2 separate regions of the Homo sapiens genome follow, and region 2 is linked to region 1. The links come from fine-mapping of genetic effects on gene expression. Tissue or cell type: thyroid. Region 1 holds a variant in brackets; the other region holds the start of a gene. All regions are shown on one strand. Distances are from middle to middle.

Evidence for each region. PIP is the estimated chance that this variant, and not a neighbour inherited with it, causes the effect.
Region 2: it holds the start of WNT4, and the variant in region 1 is fine-mapped to the expression of WNT4 in thyroid (GTEx, PIP above 0.99).

Annotation. Positions count from the first base shown.
Region 1 is chr1:22,180,852-22,190,891 of GRCh38, forward strand. No RefSeq gene overlaps it. Among named protein-coding and RNA genes, the nearest start is that of WNT4, 43 kb to the left of the region's middle. The variant A/G (reference allele first, on the strand shown) is at 5,667.
Region 2 is chr1:22,138,149-22,147,072 of GRCh38, forward strand. It overlaps WNT4 (Wnt family member 4), which reads right to left and starts at 4,949. Exons shown (of 5, transcript NM_030761.5): 1 at 4,698-4,949. The coding sequence starts at 4,774. LOC105376845 (a long non-coding RNA gene) reads left to right here and starts at 2,805. Exons shown (of 5, transcript XR_947050.1): 1 at 2,805-2,857. RefSeq lists an enhancer at 409-1,363 and silencers at 4,417-4,476, 5,039-5,368.

The DNA.
Region 1 (10,040 bases):
TTCCACTTACACAAGGTACCTAGAGTAGTCAAATTCATAGAGATGAAGCGGAATGGTATTACCAGGGGTTGCGGAGTTCGCATTTAATTTGTACAGAGTTTCAGCTGTGAAAACGTTCTGGAGGTGGGTGCTGTGATGGTTGCACAATGGGAATGTACTTGCTGCTGCAGGAACTGTACACTTAAAAAGGTTAAAATGGTAAATTTTATTTTACAACAATTAAAACAAGATCTAGCAATTTTACTTTTTTTTTTTTTTCCTTGTGATGGAGTCTCACTCACTCTGTTGCCCGGGCTGGAGTGCAATGGCACGATCTCAGCTCACTACAACCTCCGCCTCCGGGGTTTGGGTGATTGTTAATGCCTCAGCTCCTGAGTAGCTGGGACTACAGGTGCCCGCCACCATGCCCAGCTAATTAGCTAATTTTTGTATTTTTAGTAGAGACGGGGTTTTTTCATGTTGGCCTGGCTGGTCTAGAACTCCTTTTTTTTTTTTTTTTTTTTTTTGAGAAGGATTCTCACTCTGTTGCCCAGGCTGGAGTGCAGTGGTGTGATCTCGACTCACTGCAACATCTGCCTCCTGGGTTCAAGCAATTCTTCTGCCTCAACCTCCCAAGTAGCTGGGATTACAGGTGCCCACCATCATGCCCAGCTAATTTTGTATTTTTTTTTTTTTTTTTTTTTTTTTAGTAGAGACAGGGTTTCATCATGTTGGCCAGGCTGGTCTCAACTCCTGACCTCAGGTGATCTGCCTGCCTTGGCCTCCCAAAATGCTGGGATTACGGTGATGAACAACCGTGCCTGGCTGCAATTTTACTTTCTAAATGATCTCAAATTCATTCCTTTTCTCTTTCATAGTAGTTGACTCTCAGTGGGACCAATGGAGAACCTTCTTTCTGGGTTTCCTGCCTCCAATTTCACTCTCACCATCCATAGCCTAACTCCCTCTTCATCAGAGTGCTTTTCTAAACCTCAAATCTGTTCGTGTCATTTCTTTCCATGGAACCCTCCATGGTTCCCCATGGCCTATGGCATTAATTCTAAGCCTCTTAGCCTGGCATTCAAGACCCTCCCTGATCTGCCCCCTGCCTGTCTTCCCAGCCACCTCCCTCTTTTTGGCTCAGTCATTCCTCCAGTGCTCTGGGCTGTTTCACACCCCTGTGCCTTTCTCTCCACCTACATGCTCATCTCTGCCTTCTCTCCTGACACCGCTACATGACATCTCTGCCTTCTCTCCTGTGTCCAGCCCATTCATCCTCTAAGTCTCTAGAAGTCCAAAGACTTCTCTGTGATGCTCTCACAAAGCTGTCTTTTCTCTCCTTACGCTGTTTCTTTCCAGCTGTATCTGTTACTGCACACATCTGGCTGTTCTGCAATGATTTGCTTGCATGGCTGTCTCTGGGAACTCCTTCAACTTCTCTCCTTTTCTTTCAGGAAGTCCTTCCTGCCTTCTTCCAGCCTACAATGACATCCGCCTCCTCTGAGCTCACAATCTCTTGCAACCCATCGGAAGCACCATGTTAGCACTTGATTGTTCCCCTGTCTTATCTTCAATTCTCTCATGAAGATTAGTCTTGGCTCTCGGACGAGCTCATAAAAAGCCTCCTTGGTTAGATTCACCTGAACTGGGGAGGCGGAGGTTGCAGTAAACTGAGATCATGCCATGGCACTCCAGCCTGGGTGACAAGATTGAAACTCCGTCTAAAAAAAAAAAAAGCTCCTTTGTTGTAAGGACTGTGGCCTCAGTTCTGTTCCCTGGAGGAAGGGCAGGAGCGGACACTCAGTGGGCAAATTTGTGCCAGGCACTCTCGAGCCTGCTGTGTCCTGTCGTTCATCTGACAACTCTGAAGTGAGCGTTGTCATTTCCATGTTACGTTTGAGGAAGCTGCAGCTAAGAGGGTTAAGGGACTGGGATCACAAAGCATCACAGTAGAAGAGTGAGGGCTCGAACCCAGGCCAGTCAGACTCCCAAACTTGTGCTCTGCTCCGGGCCAAAGCTGAGCCCCAGAAAGACGTGCTGGGTTGGACTGGGCTGAATGGCCCCCGCCCAGTGCATGTCTGTGCACATGTGGCAGTGTTTGATTTTTCCAGTAAACTCGAGCACATGCAAGTTGGAGGCGGCATCAAGGGAAAACAGCTCATGTTGGTCCTGGCTCCGGGTCTGGGGAAGCATCCAGGGTGGTGGGGGCGGGGCAGGGCGCTGGGCGGCAGCAGGGGCAGTGGGCAGGTCTCTGTGGTCATCCCAGGAAGCCCTCAGCTGTGACCTGTGACGGCTGCCCAGGGGTACGGCCCTCCTTATTGGGAGTAACTCCTCACATTTTCCGGGACGGTGTTTGAGGGTGTGCGTTTGGCAGAAAGGATTAGAGTTACCATTCACCAGTTGCTAAGATCGTGGGCAACTCCTGTACCCTCTCTGGTTCTCATTTTATTTTCGACATCTACAGAATGGGTATTTATTTATTTATTTATTTTGTGAAAAACAGAGACAGAGTCTTGCTCTGTCACCCAGGCTGAAGTGCAGTGGCACTACCATAGCTCACTGCAGCATTGACCTTTCTACCTGGGAGGCTACCTGGGAGGAGCCATGTGATCTCTTCAAGGATACTCCTCCCTGAGGCTCTGGGGGGCTCAAGCCATCCTCCTCCCATGTAACCTTCCATGTAGCTGGGATCTCAGGCACGTGCCATCCTGCTGGCTAATTTTTTGATTTTTTTTTTTTTTTTTTGTAGAGATGAGGGCTCACTTGGTTCCCCAGGCTGGTCTTGAACTCCTAGACTCAAGCAGTCCTCCTCCCTCTGCCTCCCAAAATGCTGGGATTACAGGCATGAGCCACCTGACCTGGCCCCAAATGGGCATTTAACTAGTTTCCCGTCTCTTGGATTTCTGTGGGCAGATCCTTTGCAAGGATAGCTGTGACAGGATAGCTGATGAAAAGTCCTGTGTCCTTTTGAGAGGCTTGGTCATCTACCCTGGGAGCTTCATAACATAGAGGTGGAGAAGAATGGCCAGTCCCAATTTACAGATAGACGGGACCCCTGACCATAAATGTATACAATCATGAGATGCCAATTAAAAATAGTATTAATTAAAAAGAATGCAAAGAAAAAGGAAAGTGGAGAGGTATAATAAGAAGGGACCTTCTGTGGCTGGGCACGGTGGCTCCTGTAATACCAACACTTTGGGAGGCCAAGGCTGGTGGATCACCTGAGGTCAGGAGTTCAAGACCAGCCTGGCCAACATAGTGAAACCTCATCTCTACTAAAAATACAAAAATTAGCTGGGTGTGGTGGCGTATACCTGTAATCCCAACTACTTAGGAGGCTGAGGCAGAATTGCTTGAACCTGGGAGGCACAGGTTGCAGTGAGCTGAGATTGTGTCACTGCATTCCAGCCTGGGCTACAGAGCGAGACTCCATCTCAAAAATAAAGGGACCTTCTGAGGTTGAACTGAAATCACAAATACCTCTCTGTATGAATCTGTGATTTATCTATATATATGTGTACATATAAACACACAGATGGACAGGTGTCAGAATAGATACAGAAGCATGTCTATGTATATGTCTCTTTAGCAGCTTGTAGAGAAGAAGCTGGGACTTAGTGACATTAGACTGAGGTTTCCAGACTAAGTCCAGAAGCCCTTCTGTTTGACATTACCCAATAGATGGAAGCCAGGATATAAGATGCTAAATAATTGTAATTTAGGGACAAGGGGTGGAGAGTTTAATGGTAGGGAAGTGAGAAGTGGAGAAAGATTATCACATTATTACTAGTTGAGAGGACCAGAGAGGGAAGGTCAGTGGCCCACAGTCACACAGTGCAGGCTGGTGGCAAAACAAAAGCCAGAACTCAGCTTAAAAAAAAAAAAAAAAGAAAGAAAGAAAGAAGAAAGAAAGAAAATAGAAGAAGCCCCAACTCTCACTATTGATTGTATCTACTTTGTGCTAGGTCGCTGTGTGCTAAGGTGACTCTTCCCAGCCACCTGAAGGGATAAGTACCTTCATCATCATTTTCAGATGTGGAAGCGGAAGCTCAGCGAGGTTCCAGGGTGCACGCTTGGTTAGTGTGAGGCCACCATTTGCACCTAAGTCTGACGCCAAAGCTGGTGTTCTCAGCCAACCAGCCCGCCCCCACACTGGCCCAGACACTTGTGAGTTTGTGGAAAGTCACATATGGACCAGGACAGCAGCTACTTTGAGGCCCCAGAGAGCCAGTCAGGGCAGATGGCCAGGCTGGTCGCTGGGTGCCAGTTGTCAGGCCCTCAGCCGTGTGCAGCCAGGTGTGCAAAGCCTCCATCAACAGGCGGTGCGTTGCCTGGGGAGCTGGCTCACCACCCAGACCTTGGTTTCCCCAAATGTAGACGTTGATTGATCCCAAGGTGCTTCCCAACCCCACATTCCTGGCCTCTCTCCCCGAGGGGGCTCAGGGTTGAGGTTTGGTTGGGGGAGAGGCCCGGGCCCCTCCCTTTCCCCCAAGGTGTGAGCTACCCAGGGAACATGGGGCCGGCTGTCATGGCAACCCTGTGTTGCGAAATGACGTAATCGGAGTTCCAAACGTGTGAAATCAAATACAACATCCGCAAACACAGCCTGGGGGTCGGCATGGCAACCGCAGGGCACCGGGACAGGCAGGCACTCTCCGCCCTGAGCAGCCAGCCTGGCTCAGCCACCTGGGTGGGCAATGAGGGCACACCGTCCCCTCTCCATGCAGGCCCCACCTCCTCCCTCCACTGGGGCCCTCTCCTTTTCTCTCCTCTCCTCCTTCTTCCTCTTCTCCTTGCTTCTCCGGGAAGCAGTGTGCCAGGTGGTTAAGGAAGTCAGCTCTAGCACCCCAGACAGACCAGGTTTCACATCCTGCCACCTACCAGTGGTGAGGTTTTTGGCAATCCGCTTTACCTCTTGAACACTATTCACCTCACCTGAAAAATGGACGTAATAATAAAACTCACCATATAGTTTTGAAGGGGGGCTGATGACGTGAACATAGGCACCTAGTACTGGTGTGTATTAGATGGGAGCCATTATCCTGCCTTTTCTCATCTTTCTTCCCTGCTGTGGTTCCTTTCCTTGCCTACCACTCCCAGGGCACCTGCAGGCACCAGAAGTGACAGTGGCTTGCAGCCTGGATCCCCAGGTGATCGGTCAGGCCCTGTAGGGCTTTGCCATGTGATCTCATAGGTGGTCCTCTTCTCTATAAAATAGGGGCATGACCCACAGGCCACTGGCATCAGCAACACCTGAGTGCCGGGTAGAAAGTGCAGATTCCTGGACTCCTGCCCCCTTATACTTGATTCAGTGGGTCTAGGGTGGGGCCCAGGACACAAGTTCTCCGGGTGAACCTAACCAGACACTCCAGTGTGAGAATCCCTGAACCAGGTGTTTCCTGTGGCTCATATGGCTGACTCTGATGGGCCTCCAAGACCCAAATTCCTGGCTCTGACTGATTACCTTCCAGGCTCTTTTTATTTTGCGACGCTGTGGCCACCAGGCCAGGGCAGGCTTTCCCTGGTTTCTATGTCTGTCCCATTCGTTCTTTTTTTTGGAGACAAGGTCTTGTTCTGTCACCCAGGCTTGGAGTGCAGTGGGGTAATCATGGCTCACTGCAGCTTCAACTTCCCCAGCTCAAGTGATTCTCCCGCCTCAGCCTTCTGAGTAGCTGGGACTACAG[A/G]CACGCTCCACCACACTTGGCTAATTTTTTTCTCTTTTTGAGATGGAGTCTTGCTCTGTTGCCCAGGCTGGAGTGCAGGGGTGCATCTTGGCTCACTGCACCCTCCCCCTCCCGGGTTCAAGTGATTCTCCTGTCCCAGCCACCTGAGTAGCTGGGACTACAGGCATGTGCCACCACGCCCAGTTACATTTTTTTGTATTTTTAGTAGAGATGGAGTTTCACCATGTTGGCCAGGCTGGTCTCCAACTCTTGACCTCAAGTGATCAACCTGCCCTTGGCTTCCCAAAGTTCTGGGATTACAGGCGTGAACCACCATGCCTGGCCTCACCTGGCTAATTTTTATTTATTTATTTTTTTGTAGAGTCGGGGTTCTCGTTATGTTGCCCAGGCTAGTCTCAAACTCCTGGGCTCAGGTGATCTTCCCATCTTGGCCTCCCAAAGTGCTGGGATCACAGGTGTGAGCCACTGTGCCTGGCTGTCTCATTCATTCAATCAACAAATGTTTCTCATGCCAGGCCCTGGGCCACATTCACCTTTCCCACACCAGTGAGGAACAGATGCTGCCCTGTGTGTTTGGGGTGGGGGGTGGCGGGGCTGAGAAGGTAGAGACAAGTCTGTGACTCAGTTTTTCATGTGTAAAATGGGGATAATGCTTTGATAATGAGTGTCCTGCTACTCTTGAGGTGGCATAGGGCTCTGGCGAGAGGATGACAAGGACACATTCTCTGGGGACCTGTGGCCTGCCAGGCACTGTGCTAGATGCTTTGTATAGGTAACGCTGGATGCTCCCAGTAACTTTTCAGGTGGGGGCTATTTCCCTTCATTTTACGCTTGGGAAAATGAGGCTCAGCAGGTGACTTGACTCACCTGAGATCACTCACCACATACCCAGTTTAGGGTTTAAATCCTTCCCTGGCTCACATTGCCCTTCTAGCCACTGTTCTTCCTCTGCCTCTCCTTTCCCTCTCCCCTCCCCTTCCTCCAGCCCCTTCTCTTCCACTCCATTCTCCTTCCTCTTCCTTGTCTATTTTTCATCAAAAGGTCTAGAGTTTTCCGCACTCACTCTTTCCATGTCTGCACTTGCCAGTCGCCCCTTAGTCCTGAGGTCCGTCTCCCCATCCCGCATCCTTCCACGGTGACCAGGACCTCTGTGAGCAGAACCCAGTGGTTCTGACCTCTTAGTAGCCTTGATGCTGGGGGTTGCCCCTCCTCCTCACAGTCCGCTTTTCTCCTAGGCTTTACTTTCCTCCACCTCTCCTGGGTTTTCCTTCTTTTTTTTTTTTTTGAGACGGAGTCTTGCTCCATCACCCAGGCTGGAGTGCAGTGGTGCGATCTCGGCTCACTGCAACTTCCGCCTCCCAGGTTCCAGTGATTCTTCTGCCTCAGCCTCCTGAGTAGCTGGGACTACAGGCATGCGCCACCATGCCCGACTAATTTTTGTATTTTTAGTAGAGACGGGGTTTCGCCGTGTTGGCCAGGATAGTCTTGAACTCCTGACCTCAAGTGATCTCCCCACCTCAGCCTCCTAAAGTGCTGGGATTACAGGCATGAGCCACCATGCCCGGCCTCTCCTGGGTTTTCTTAATCTTTCCATTTAAAGGATTTTTAAAAACCCGAACATTTGTTGAGCACCTGCCTTGTGTCCAGGCTGTGCTAAGGGGGGATATGCGGTGGCCAGACCTTCTGGATCCTTGTCTTCCTGTGTGTGGCCTCAGGAGCTGTGCCTGCTCTGCGCCTCCACTCTCTGCTCTGGCGCTCACTCTCCTCCTTCCCTTCCCTGCTGCCTATGCCTCTCCCCACATGCTCTTTCTTGACAGTCTTGTCTACCATGGCCTCAGCTACCAGCTACCGCCTGAGGACTCCCCAGCCTTCAGTCCAGAACATTCTGGACAGAACATTATTCTGTAATGACCTTCAGAGTCTATCAGGATCCCTCTGCCTGCCCCTAACCCTGGACTCCAGGCACCCCCTCCAGTTCTTCCTTCACAAATTGCCACAGTGCTTTCTCTAAGTCACACTGGTCCACTGCGACTGCTCAGTGCTACGAGGTGGAATCCTCATTCTTTCACCCACTCGACTCCTATTCATCCTGTAAGACTCAGTCCAGGTATCACCTCCTCCAGCAGGTCCTCCAGGATTGACCCAGTGACTCTGCTCCATGTGTCCCCAGCACAGGAGCTCCCCTCCAGCATGGTGGGATAGAGCCCAGGGCCTGGCACAGAGTGAGAATGGCCCCAGTGAATGTGGACTGGAGACCCAGTGGCTGTAAGAGCTCACAAACAGTCTAAATCTCTTGTTTTACCCACAGGGACAGGAGGTCTAAGGTCTCAAATGGATTTACCAGCAAAGCCAAGACTCTAGCCCAAGTGCCTGGATCCCATTTCAGAGTCTGTCCCATCAGAGCACACAGCCAGGAAGGTGAGACAGCAGGTATCGTGGAGAGAGGCCACTGATTGGTCAGTGTCAGGCATGCTGAGTTATCTGTGGCCCTGTCCTATTCTGAGCATATTTTCCTCTGCACAGATAAAGTCAGATCTTTGCACTTGTCCAGTGAGGTGTTCCTCACGGTAAATGGATGACAATTGACAAAGTGCCTACTGTGCGCCCACCTTGGCCTGGGGCTTTCGTGGGTGTTATCTTGCTTCCATTGTCTTGGGGAAGGAGCCAGGAGGGATGTGGAGGACAGAGGACTTCCTTAAAGGTGGGATCATGGCACAGCACCTTGGCTTCTTCCTTGAGTGCTGGGCGCTCGGCAGGTGCTTGCCAAGGTGTGCGTTGCACAGAGGATTTGCTGGCTGGGTCCCATGAGCTTGCAGAGCTGAGCTTGGCTGGAGAGTAATTGGAATACCAAAAATGCTCGACCTCGGACTGCAGCTTCCGTATCACCAGGGCCAGCTGGGCTGTGGTCCCAGCTTCCAACTCAGAGACCTGGGTTCTTCCACTGAGTCCCAACTGGTTGAGCACTTCTGGGATGAGTTCTGGTGCAGCGTGGTGCTCCAGTATCCAGCATGGGCCCTGACACTCAGGAGGCCCTCGTATATGGCTATTGAGAGATTGAGCTACCTGTGCCATCTTGGAGGTGGCCATGTCCCTCAGGCCTCAGTCTCCTGGTAACAAAAAGGGATCCTTTCTCGTTCCAGAGGACAGGACTTAAAACCCTTAGGGGTGAGCGCTCCTTGAGCACTTACTGTATGCCATGCCCTGTTCTAACACTTCACATGTGCAAACTCGTTTAAGCCTCATGACTATTCTTGGTACTATTCAGGCCCCATTTCACAGATGAGGAAATCGAGACTCAGAGAGGTTAGGTAGCTCTCCAAGGTCCTGCAGCTGGTGAGTGGCAGAGTCAGGATTTGAACCCAGACCATCTGGCTGCATGGTTCATGCTCCTAACCACTACATCTATGGACTTTTTCATTGGCTGTCATCCTGGTCCAGAGCTGTTGCAATTTAAGAGGGAGCCACTGTTGTTCTTATTATTACTAAAGGACAAACCCACAGGCATGGCTGGAGACAGAACCTTGTTTCTGGGACTTAATTTGAGGAAGGGTGCAAAAAGGGGGTGTGGGGAATATCCCAGTTTGACCAAGGATTTGCAAAGGACAATCCACGTAAGGCATGAATCTAATCCTGTCTTGTCCTTGAATTGGCACTGGGCTCAACTCCTTTTCTTCATTCCTCTGTGGGAGTGGTGGGAGCCAACTCACCTTCCAGGGTCACAGAGACCTGACCTCCCAAGGAGGCTGGTCCCTGCTCAGACCAGGCAGCCTAGGAGCCCCTCAGCTGCCCCATCAGGACTCATCGCACCTTCTTCCCCAGCCTTGGCAGCTGGCCCTGGGACATGAAGGGGACAGGAGCACCAGAATGGGGAAGGGTCAAGGCTGAGCCTTGCTCCCGTCAGTCTCCAACCTGCTTGTTTGAGCAGGAGACTTGGGCATCTGGGCAGATGGAGGACGGGCCCGTTCTCATTCAGCAGAGTCTCCTGTAGGGCTCTCCTGGTGTTTAGTAGGTGCTGAGTCCTGGGCGATAGCAGAGTCTAGTGGGCCGGGGCACAGGTTGGGGATGGGGGATGGGATCAGGGAGGCAGGAGGAGGCTGGGATATGTGGCCAAAGCTATGGACTTAGGAGTCAGGTTTTTATCCTAACCCTCCCCTAACCCCCATTTCCTTGGGAAAGTTACTTCCTGCCCAGAACTCCCATTTCTTTTTCTTTAAGATGGAGATCATAATACTGTCCCTGTGAAAATGAAACAGAAGCACAGATGTAGGACCAAGTGTAAGGTCTGGGCCATACAAAGCATGGAATAAAGGTGGCTGCTGTTATTACAACTCATACCAGGGGCTCTTGCCAAGTGAGCTAACATGGCGGGTCTGT
Region 2 (8,924 bases), 43 kb before region 1:
CGGTTCTATAGGCAGGGGATGAAAGCTGTAAAATCTGGACATGGGAGAGCAGTTCCAGTCCTGCTTCTGATTTGCAGGATGACCTTGGGGAAGTCATTGCACGTCTGGGCCTCTGAAGTGGGGCTGAAAGTAATCTACACTCCTGTCCTCTGAAAGTGGTTGTGGTGAGGCATGGAGGGGATGGTGTGTGGTTCAAATGGGTAATGGTTGTGAAAGATCTTTGCCAACCATTGATTCCTGGGGGAATGATTTTGCCCGCCCCCCAGGGGACATTTGGCAAAGTCTGCAGACATTTTGTCCTTTCGCTTGGGGGGATGTTACTGGCTATCTAGCCGGTAAAGGTCAGGTATGCTGCTAAGTATCCCGCAATGCACAGAAGAGACCCAGACAGAAGACTCATCCAGTCCCAAATACCAGTGATACGGAGGCTGAGAAATCCTGCTGTAAACTGTGAAGTACTGTGGGGGTGTTTGTGATTGTAATTCACTGCCCAGAGCCACGGAGGAGCTCTAAGGAGACGGATTTTTGACTATTTAGAGGGGAGAGAGGGATCTTTTAAAGCTGGGAATCAAGGGCACACTTCCTGGAGGAGGTGGGCCACATCTTTACCTGTGTGGTTGGCACTGCACATCTGGGCTGGCCGTGCCCCATCCCTGCCCCAGGGAGTTGTGCCCAGAGTGTTGGGCTTCACTCCACCCAAGGCCAAGGGAGATATAAACTGTCCCCCGGCCCCCGGGCAAGCAGGCTCAGGGGAGCTTGGCCGGAAGTCGCACACCAGTGGGGACTCAAAGCCAATGGAAAGCATGATGCGTCCTTCACTGCCCCCAGGGCACGGAAAGGTGCTCCCAGCAGCAACTCCTCTGCCTGGCAAGATTGGCTTGTGAGCCAGGCTAGGTCTTCCTGACTCTGGGAGGCTCCTGCGGGGGCCCTTGTTGAGCAAGGGGGTTGCAGCCTAGGATCCTACCTGTGTTAAATCAGTGGATCTGGGTGGGACAGCCTGGGATAAACAGGGCTTGGGAGCAGCAGCCTGAAGGCCCGTTTTCTCCACCACCCCTATCAATAGGGACGCAGCCCTGCAGCTCCCTGACAGCAGCCCTTGCTTCCGGCAGCTGCCAGGGCTGCCATTTCCATCAGCGTGCCTGGCCCAGTGCCAGCTTGCCACACGCATGGGCTCGCTCTTTCTTCCCAACCACCATTGTGCACCATTTGCATCAGTGGGCTCCATTTTACAGATGAGAAACCCGAGGCTCGGAGAGGTTAATAACCTGTCCAAGGTCACTCAGCTGGGCAGGGCAGAGCTCGGTTGGATCTCAAAGACCCACTTCTTGGCCATGCCGCCGGCCTGCCTCTGAGTGCAGCGTGGTCCCCCTCCCCTCACCCGTGGGATTCTGCTAGAACCCCGCTACCCCACTACTTTCCTCAGAAATCCACAGTCCTGAAACCTTAGCTTATTTATTCCCTAACCCTCCCCAGCACTTCCATTTGGGGTTCAGAACGATCTGCTGAGGACTGTGGCCCCAAGGGAGGAAGGGGACACCCAATATGTGGCCCAGAGCTGGGACTGGAACCCAGGTATCCTGACTCCCGGTACAGCCTCAGTGCAGGGAAGAGGGGACATTAGAAACATTTCTGAGCTCAGGTCCGTGGCAGGGCAGCCTCCTTAAGGGCAGAGTCCCAGCCTTCCCCCAGGGACTCTTCATCCATCGGGCCCTCCCTCAGTGGTGGGAGCCGTCACAAGCTGTCAGCGGGCTCCTCCGGGTGCCAGACGAGAGTCTAATCAACAGCTCCCAGCTTCTCTGGGCCTGCCCAGGCCTCAGGCTGCCCTCCCAGCTCCAGGCTCCATCCTGCCCAACAGCTGCACGCGGCGGGACACCTGGCCTCCCCACCAGGCCACCTGCCCTTCTGAGACAACAGATAGTCCTGGCTCTCGCCACTGGCCAGCAGACCCACCCTGGACTCCAGGGTATTGGGAGGCGAGCGGAACCTAGACCTTGCTCCTTGGCAGGTGCTGTCAGCTATCCTCTCGGGGCCAGGCCTCCTCATACCTCACACTTGAAAAGACACAGTGCCAGCCATCATGCCTGCATGGACACCTGCCTCCCCGAAGCTTTTCCTTCTAGAGGCAGCTTTTCAGTCGGACACCTCTGGCATTTACCAGCTGGGTGACTTGGGCAGTTACCTCTGCGATCCCCAATCTTCTCATCTGTAACGGGATTGAAACGTTGTTGGGATTTAGATCATGCTGTGGGAGTCATCATAATAATTATTATTGTCATGATCATACAGTCTTCAGACCAAGTCCCCCTCTGTGCCTGCTCGGGCTCACACTCAGCTCTTTCCTCTGACAGCCATAGAGCATGTGCCCTGTTCCACCCAGTCGTGGTTTTATCATGTCTTTCTACCTAGACTCCAGGCTTGTGGGAGGCCAGGCTGTGACATCCATTTCCCCCAGAGCTGCCATTCCTGGCCAGCTGATTGTTCGACAGAGGTTGATAAATATTGGACCAACCTTGGTATGTGCCCAGTGTCTTCTCCTTCATAGCCTCTCTGGTTTGGGAGGGTCCTGGGAAGCCTCTTGTTCCTCTTGCCTTGGGTGGAGCAGAGAGACCCTTGGCTTGAAGCCGGGGGTGGAGCAGGAGTGAGCTGGGTCATCCAGAGACCTGCTTCGTGGCAACCTGAACCATCACCGTTGCAGAGAACAGGTTTGCCAACCTCTCTTCTCCTAGGCTGCCCCTCCTCACCCCACCCCCAACAGCACAGGCAGGAGAACTGAGTTGTTGGAATTCCCCACAGTTTGCATGATCCAAAGCCGAGGCTGCCTTCCTGGCTGGGATTCTGGGGGTGGACATGGGTGAAGGTGAGTGGTGATGCCACCGGGCCATGCTGGCTCCACTTTGGGACAGCTTCAGGGAAGGGGGTATAGGGTCACTGCCTGGGAGTCAGAACACCTGGGTTCAGTTCTCAGCTCTGAGTTTGGGCAAGTAGCTTCCACTCCCTAGGCCTCAGTTTCCTCATCTGAGTCAAAGATGAGATGTTCCTGAAGGACTTTCCACTGCAGATGTCGCTGTCTTCCATGTAGGCCTGGGCCAGACGCTTGGACTGCCACTTTTTTTTCTTTGTTTTTTGTTTGTTTGTTTGTTTTTTGTGGCTTTGGCGGTGCTGGGCAGGTGAGACACAGTTCTTGCTCCTTCTGATGCTCAGATCTGTTTTGGAGGCCCCCGCTCTGAACCCATGCATTCAAGAACCAGCTCCAGGGACACCCAGGGTCCTCCAAGTCCAAATCAGCTCCCTCCCCAGCTCTGTGACCCAGGCTCCATTCAGGGGGTGGCCTGCAGGGGGGCAGTGGGAGAAGGTGGTGGTGCCTTGCTTTCTGTACACTCTGCCACTGCTCCTGAAGTGTTAATCAAATTAAGGCTCCAAGAAAAACAAAAGCTCCGCAGCCACTTCGGGCTGCCTTGGAGTCGTTTGCTCTCGGAACAGCTGGGAGAATTCCACATCACCTCCGTCCCCCAAGCCCTGGGTGGCTCTGACCCCAACGAACACACTCCTTCCAGCCTGGAGGGCTCTGGCTGGCCACAATGACCTCATAGCAACAGCCATTGGACACTCGGGGCAATTTCATGGGAGATATTTGTTCTTTGGTCTTGATGCAGAGAGAATTTTTTCCTCTCTCCCTGTCTCCATGGAAACCCCAGCTACACTGTTGGCGATCCCCCTTCCCACCCCATGCTTTTCAGATCAATATTGGAGCTTGGCTCCCCACTGGCTGCCCACAGCGGATGGTGGCAGAGCTCTGGGCAGGAGGAACTGGGGCCAGGGTTAAGCGCGGGGCATGGGGAACTGTCCCTGAGCGGGGATGAAAGGAGCGCGGGTCCGCTTGCTCCCTGTCCACCCACTCACTGGAGCTCATCCCTTTAGTCTCCCTCCCTGCAGCAAACCTTCCGCCCCTACCCAGGGAGCGCCCTGAGCGCAGATCCAGTCAAGGAGAAACAGACAGGTCACCAGCGGTTACCACCCCTTCCTCCTTAGGCTAGACACGGGGAGCTGGGGGGCCGTTGTCTTCTTTAAGGTCTGGACGGAGTTTCTTCCTGCCCCGGGGAAAAACCAAGGCCCGGCCAGCGCCAGCGCCAGCCCCGGGCCCTGGGAGACCAGGCGTCCTGGTCCCTTCCTTCTGTCTCCGGCTCCCGCCCCCCAAGCAGAAACAGGTCCCTGCACGCCTCCAGCCCAGCCCGCAGCGCGGCGCAGCTCGGCGCAGCTCGGCGCTGGGAGCTCGCTCCGGACTTCTCGGGATTAACCTGCTATTATGTCCCGGAGCCCTTCCCTGCAATGGGCTTCCTCAGCGACCTGTCAGCCCGGCTGGACTGCAACCCGCGTCCGGCGCCCCTCCCGGGCCACCGCCCCGCGCTCGCACCCCTGGCGCCCTCGAGAGCCCCGAGCCGCCTACCGGTGCGGACGCCGCCACAGCCACCCCTGACGCCTCTGGGCAGGGAGCCGGACCCGGGCAGGAGGGGACCCCGGGTGTGCAGAGGGACGTTCGGGCCGTGGCGGCGGCAGCGGAGCGAGCGAGCCTCCGGTCCCGCGGCCGAGACACCTGCCGGGCTGCCCCGCGCCCGCTGCCCCGCGCCGCCTGGCACCGGCCGCTGCCCCCGGGGCCTGCCCCGCCCCGCCCCGCCCCGCTCGGCCCCGGCCAGACTTACAGCCAGTTGCTCGCGGCGGCTGAGAAGACGGCGAAGACGAGGAGGCGCAGCGAACGCAGGCACGAGCGGGGACTCATGGTGCCGCCGCGGGCGCCCGGCCCGGGGCAGCGGCTGCGGCCGCGGGGGGCCTCCCGTCGGGGCTGCAGGTGGGCGCCCGCGGGCGGGCCGGGGCGCGCGCGGCGGGGCTCTGCCTCCGTGTGCCTGCCGGCAGCCTGCCCGCTGCTGCGCCCGCTGCCCGGCGCGGACCAGACTGTCAGCGCCGCCCCAGAGCCGGGATGCGGCGGCGGCGGCGGCGGCGGCGGCGGCGGAGGCGGGCGGGCGGGCGGGCGGCCGGGGGGGCGGGCCGGGGGCGGGCCGAGGATGGGGTTACCTGGGCGGGCCCAGCGGCCCGGGACACCCCCCCGGGGGCGGGCCGGAGCGGCGGCGGCTGCCGCCTTAGCCCGCGGGACTGGGCTGCTCCCGGGGCCTCCCCGGCTGGGCGCTCCGGAGGACTTGGGGCCCGAGCCCGCTCCAGGCACGCCTGGCTGCGCGCCGCCGAGCCCGGCCCGGCTAGAGGCGCGGCGACCCAGCTGCCCGGCCGCCGCCCGGGCCTAGGGGACAGGCGGGCACAGCTCCCCCAACCCGCCGCTGCGGGCACTGCAGCGCGGCCCTCGCTGTCCCCCTACCCCCCCCACCGCCCCCCGCCGGCGCCTGGAGCCCAGACCCCGGTCCGACCGCGGCGGACCCACCGGAGCGCGGCTACCACTCGCGCGCACCCAGGCGCTGGCGCTCCGGGTGCCTGGGGCTGCACATCGGGGCGCTGGATGTCTCCCGACCGCCCCCCGCCCGGCCCCTCCCTGCCTCCTGGCCCCCGCGTCCTGCGGCCCAGCCCCTCCCTGGCGCTCACCTCCCTACAGCCTTCCGGGAGCTGGACGGGGCCTCCCCAGCTTTGGGCAGCTTGGGACAGTGGCCCGAGACTGTGGGAATCCGAAACCTCGCTTCTGGCTAGCCACAAGGTCTGGGCGCGCCCCAGGCAGCAGGGTCTTGACTCTGAGCCTCCGTTTTCTCATCCGGGAAGTGGGCTTAAGACGCTGTGATTGGGAGGACAGGAGGAGTTTAGGGAAGCTCTCTTGGCTCACTCACCAAGTCTTACTTTGCATTTGGTTTTCTATGTGCTTGTTCGATTTATCCTCCCATACTAGGCAGATTCAGCCTCTTGTTTGTTTTGGGCACAGGGCGGTGCCTGCCATGTTTGTGGAAGGAATAAATGAATGGAATGGAATGGGCTGCAACAGCCTGTGCTTGGCTAGTCCAGAGAGCTCAATTCCACATCACTGTAACCCCTAAGAATTGTCTGCCCAAGTCCACGCCACACCCTCTCAGGTCACTGATCTGATTCTGTGTGCTACTCATCCTCCAGGCTGCATCCCCCAGCTGCTCACAGGTAGAGGGACCTCTTATCTAAACAGTAAAACTAAGGCCCGGAAAGGGAGGCACCTGTCCCACCTCCCTAGGGGTTGGGAACAGAGGCAAGGACCAGGTCTATGCCCTCACCCCCTGATCTTAGTTCTTCACTGATTTTGGAGTATGAAGTTTGCTCCCACAGAGGCCATCATGTTTGGGTGCTGGGATGGTGCCCTGGGGTCCCCTGGGCTCAGAACAGAGGAAGGGCTCAGTAAACATTTGGTATTGGGACTGGGTGGAACGTGGCAGGGATTTGTGGGGCTGGGCAAGAGTATAGATGGAGGTTCACATACCATATGTCCAAATATTTGCAGGCTATAAATCAAGCTAACAAAATGCAAAATAAATTATGTTCTATTCTTCTATCTTGACAAATACACTTTCCTAACAAGGCAGAAAGCTGGCTTTGAGTGTGGCATTCTCATACTCCTCAGACCTTGCCCTGGAGCTGGTGGCACAGGGAGAGGGGGCCCCTAGTGCCTGGCCTGGGCCCCTGCCCCCTACCTTTTCCTACCTCTGCCTCTGTCCTGTCCTTCGAGAGTCTTGTGCACATTCATGAACATCTCAGCCTGCACATGCAAGCTCAGCCCCTTGGTAGCCCCTCAGGCTTAGGGCTGGGCACGCCAGTGGTGTACTCTGTCCTCGGGCTGGATCTGCGGAAGAGACCCACGCAGGTCCTGGCAGTGGGCTAAGGGCCATCTCTGCAGGGAACCCCAGGGGCCTGGGCACCCAGAGTATGCTCTAGTGGAGGTGCCACAAGTTCCAGGTGGGCATGTCCCCTTGTCCCATGGTCTTCCCTCCTTGTGATGAGAGGTTAGCTGGAGGAGGGCCAGACTGGGGGGGTCCCCAGGGCAGGGGCCACTCTCACCTGTGTTTAAGGGTGGTACTGAAGTGCTGACCTATTTTGAACCAGCATATTCACTTCCTGGAGACTCAGTATGGTATGGTGGAAAATAATAATAACAACGATAATAATTTAGATGGCAACAGGTAATTATGTTAGGATGGCCATATAATTTTCTTCCAAACCAGGATGTTTTCAAGAGTGACGGGGGGCTCTAACTGGAAGATTTGCCAGGCTACCAGGCATAGACCAAGACTGTGCCAGGCCACCTAGGATGCACTGTGCCACTCAAATGTTGTGCCCTGGTATGTCAGGCACTGTTCTTAGTGCTTTACACGCTTTGACTCATTCAATCGTTGCAACAAATCTAGGAAGTACGTACTGTTATCACCCTCATTTTACAGATGAAGACACCAGGTTACTTGCTTAAGGAAAGTGGTGGACCTGGGACTCCAGAGCCACATCCCCGGCTCCCATACCATCCTGAGCCTGGGACTCAGGTGTTTGGGCTTAAGCCCCTGTCCCAAAGCACATGACACTTGACCTTTGGGAAGCTGCAGGACCTTCAGTTTCTGTATCCATCAGGTGGGAACAATGTTACCTGGCTTGCCTTCTCCTGGGGTGCTGGGAGATGCATATGAGTGGGTGTGTGTGAGCCCCACGAGCAGGATCAAGCTGAGCCCAGGAGGGAGAGAACTGGAGCCATCAGAAAGTGTCTCCCTGAGCTGTGCTGTGATAATGGAGAGGAGGAGCCCTTTGCTCTGAGTCAGTGGAAATTCTTTTTTTTTTTTTTTTTTTTTTTTTTGAGACGGAGTCTCCCTCTGTCGCCCAGGCTGGAGTGCAGTGGTGTGATCTCGGCTCACTGCAAGCTCCGCCTCCCGGGTTCAACTGATTCTCCTGCCTCAGCCTCCTGAGTAGCTGGGACTACAGGTGCGTGCCACCATGCCAAGCTAATTTTTGTATTTTTTTAGTAGAGACGGGGTTTCACCATGTTGGCCAGGATGGTCTCGATCTCTTGACCTCGTGATCCACCTGCCTCGGCCTCCCAAAGTGCTAGGATTACAGGCATGAGCCACCTTGCCTGGCCGGAAATTCTTAATGAGAAAGTCTCTTGGAGGAAATGCTCTTCTAACTTTCAAGAACAGCCCAACTGTGAAGATATCAATGCAAATTAACTAAAAAGTCAAATTGTCAATAGCTCTTTAATGTCAGTAGTAAGAGTGCATCTGGTACTTTCTATATATACCAGCCACTGTTCCAAGTGCTTTGCCTGTTCGCATTAACTCATGGAATCTTGGCCACGGCTCTAGGAAGTAGATACTGTTCTTAGTTCCATTTACAGGAGGGGAAGCCCATGTGTGGCTCTAAAACTGCTATAAGACATATTAACAACCCTATTACATAGGTTAAGATTATTGTTATTCCCATTTTACATATGGAGAAACTGAGGCACAGAGAGTTCAAGTGGATTGCCTAAAGTCACCCAGGTAGCAGCACAGCCAGGGTTTGGAAGCAGGTGGTCTGGGCACTGAGCGAGCACAAAGCTGTTCAATGGACAAAAGTCTTCCACATGTCAGAATTAATGTCTGTGTTCAGAAGGGGAAGCTCATGGGGTTTCTGTAGACTCTTCCTGGGGGTTACTTTAAACCCTCAAAATCCAAGGCAGAGCCCTCCACACCATATCCCTCTCTGTGCCCAGCACCATGAGTACCTCACACATAATAGAATGGGAACATATCTTTCTTGAAGGGACCAATTCCTTAACTTCCTGAGCGGCCCATTTTTGGAATTAGTTCTCCCTCCTTAATAACTATGAAAATTCACTGAGGAAGGGAAACCCAGTCAAGTTTTTAATCAGAAAGAATCACATTCAGTGTGTCTAAGTTATCACCAGCTCTTAGGGAGTGGGCCCAAAGCAACGTGGTTGGATGTTTCTCCAG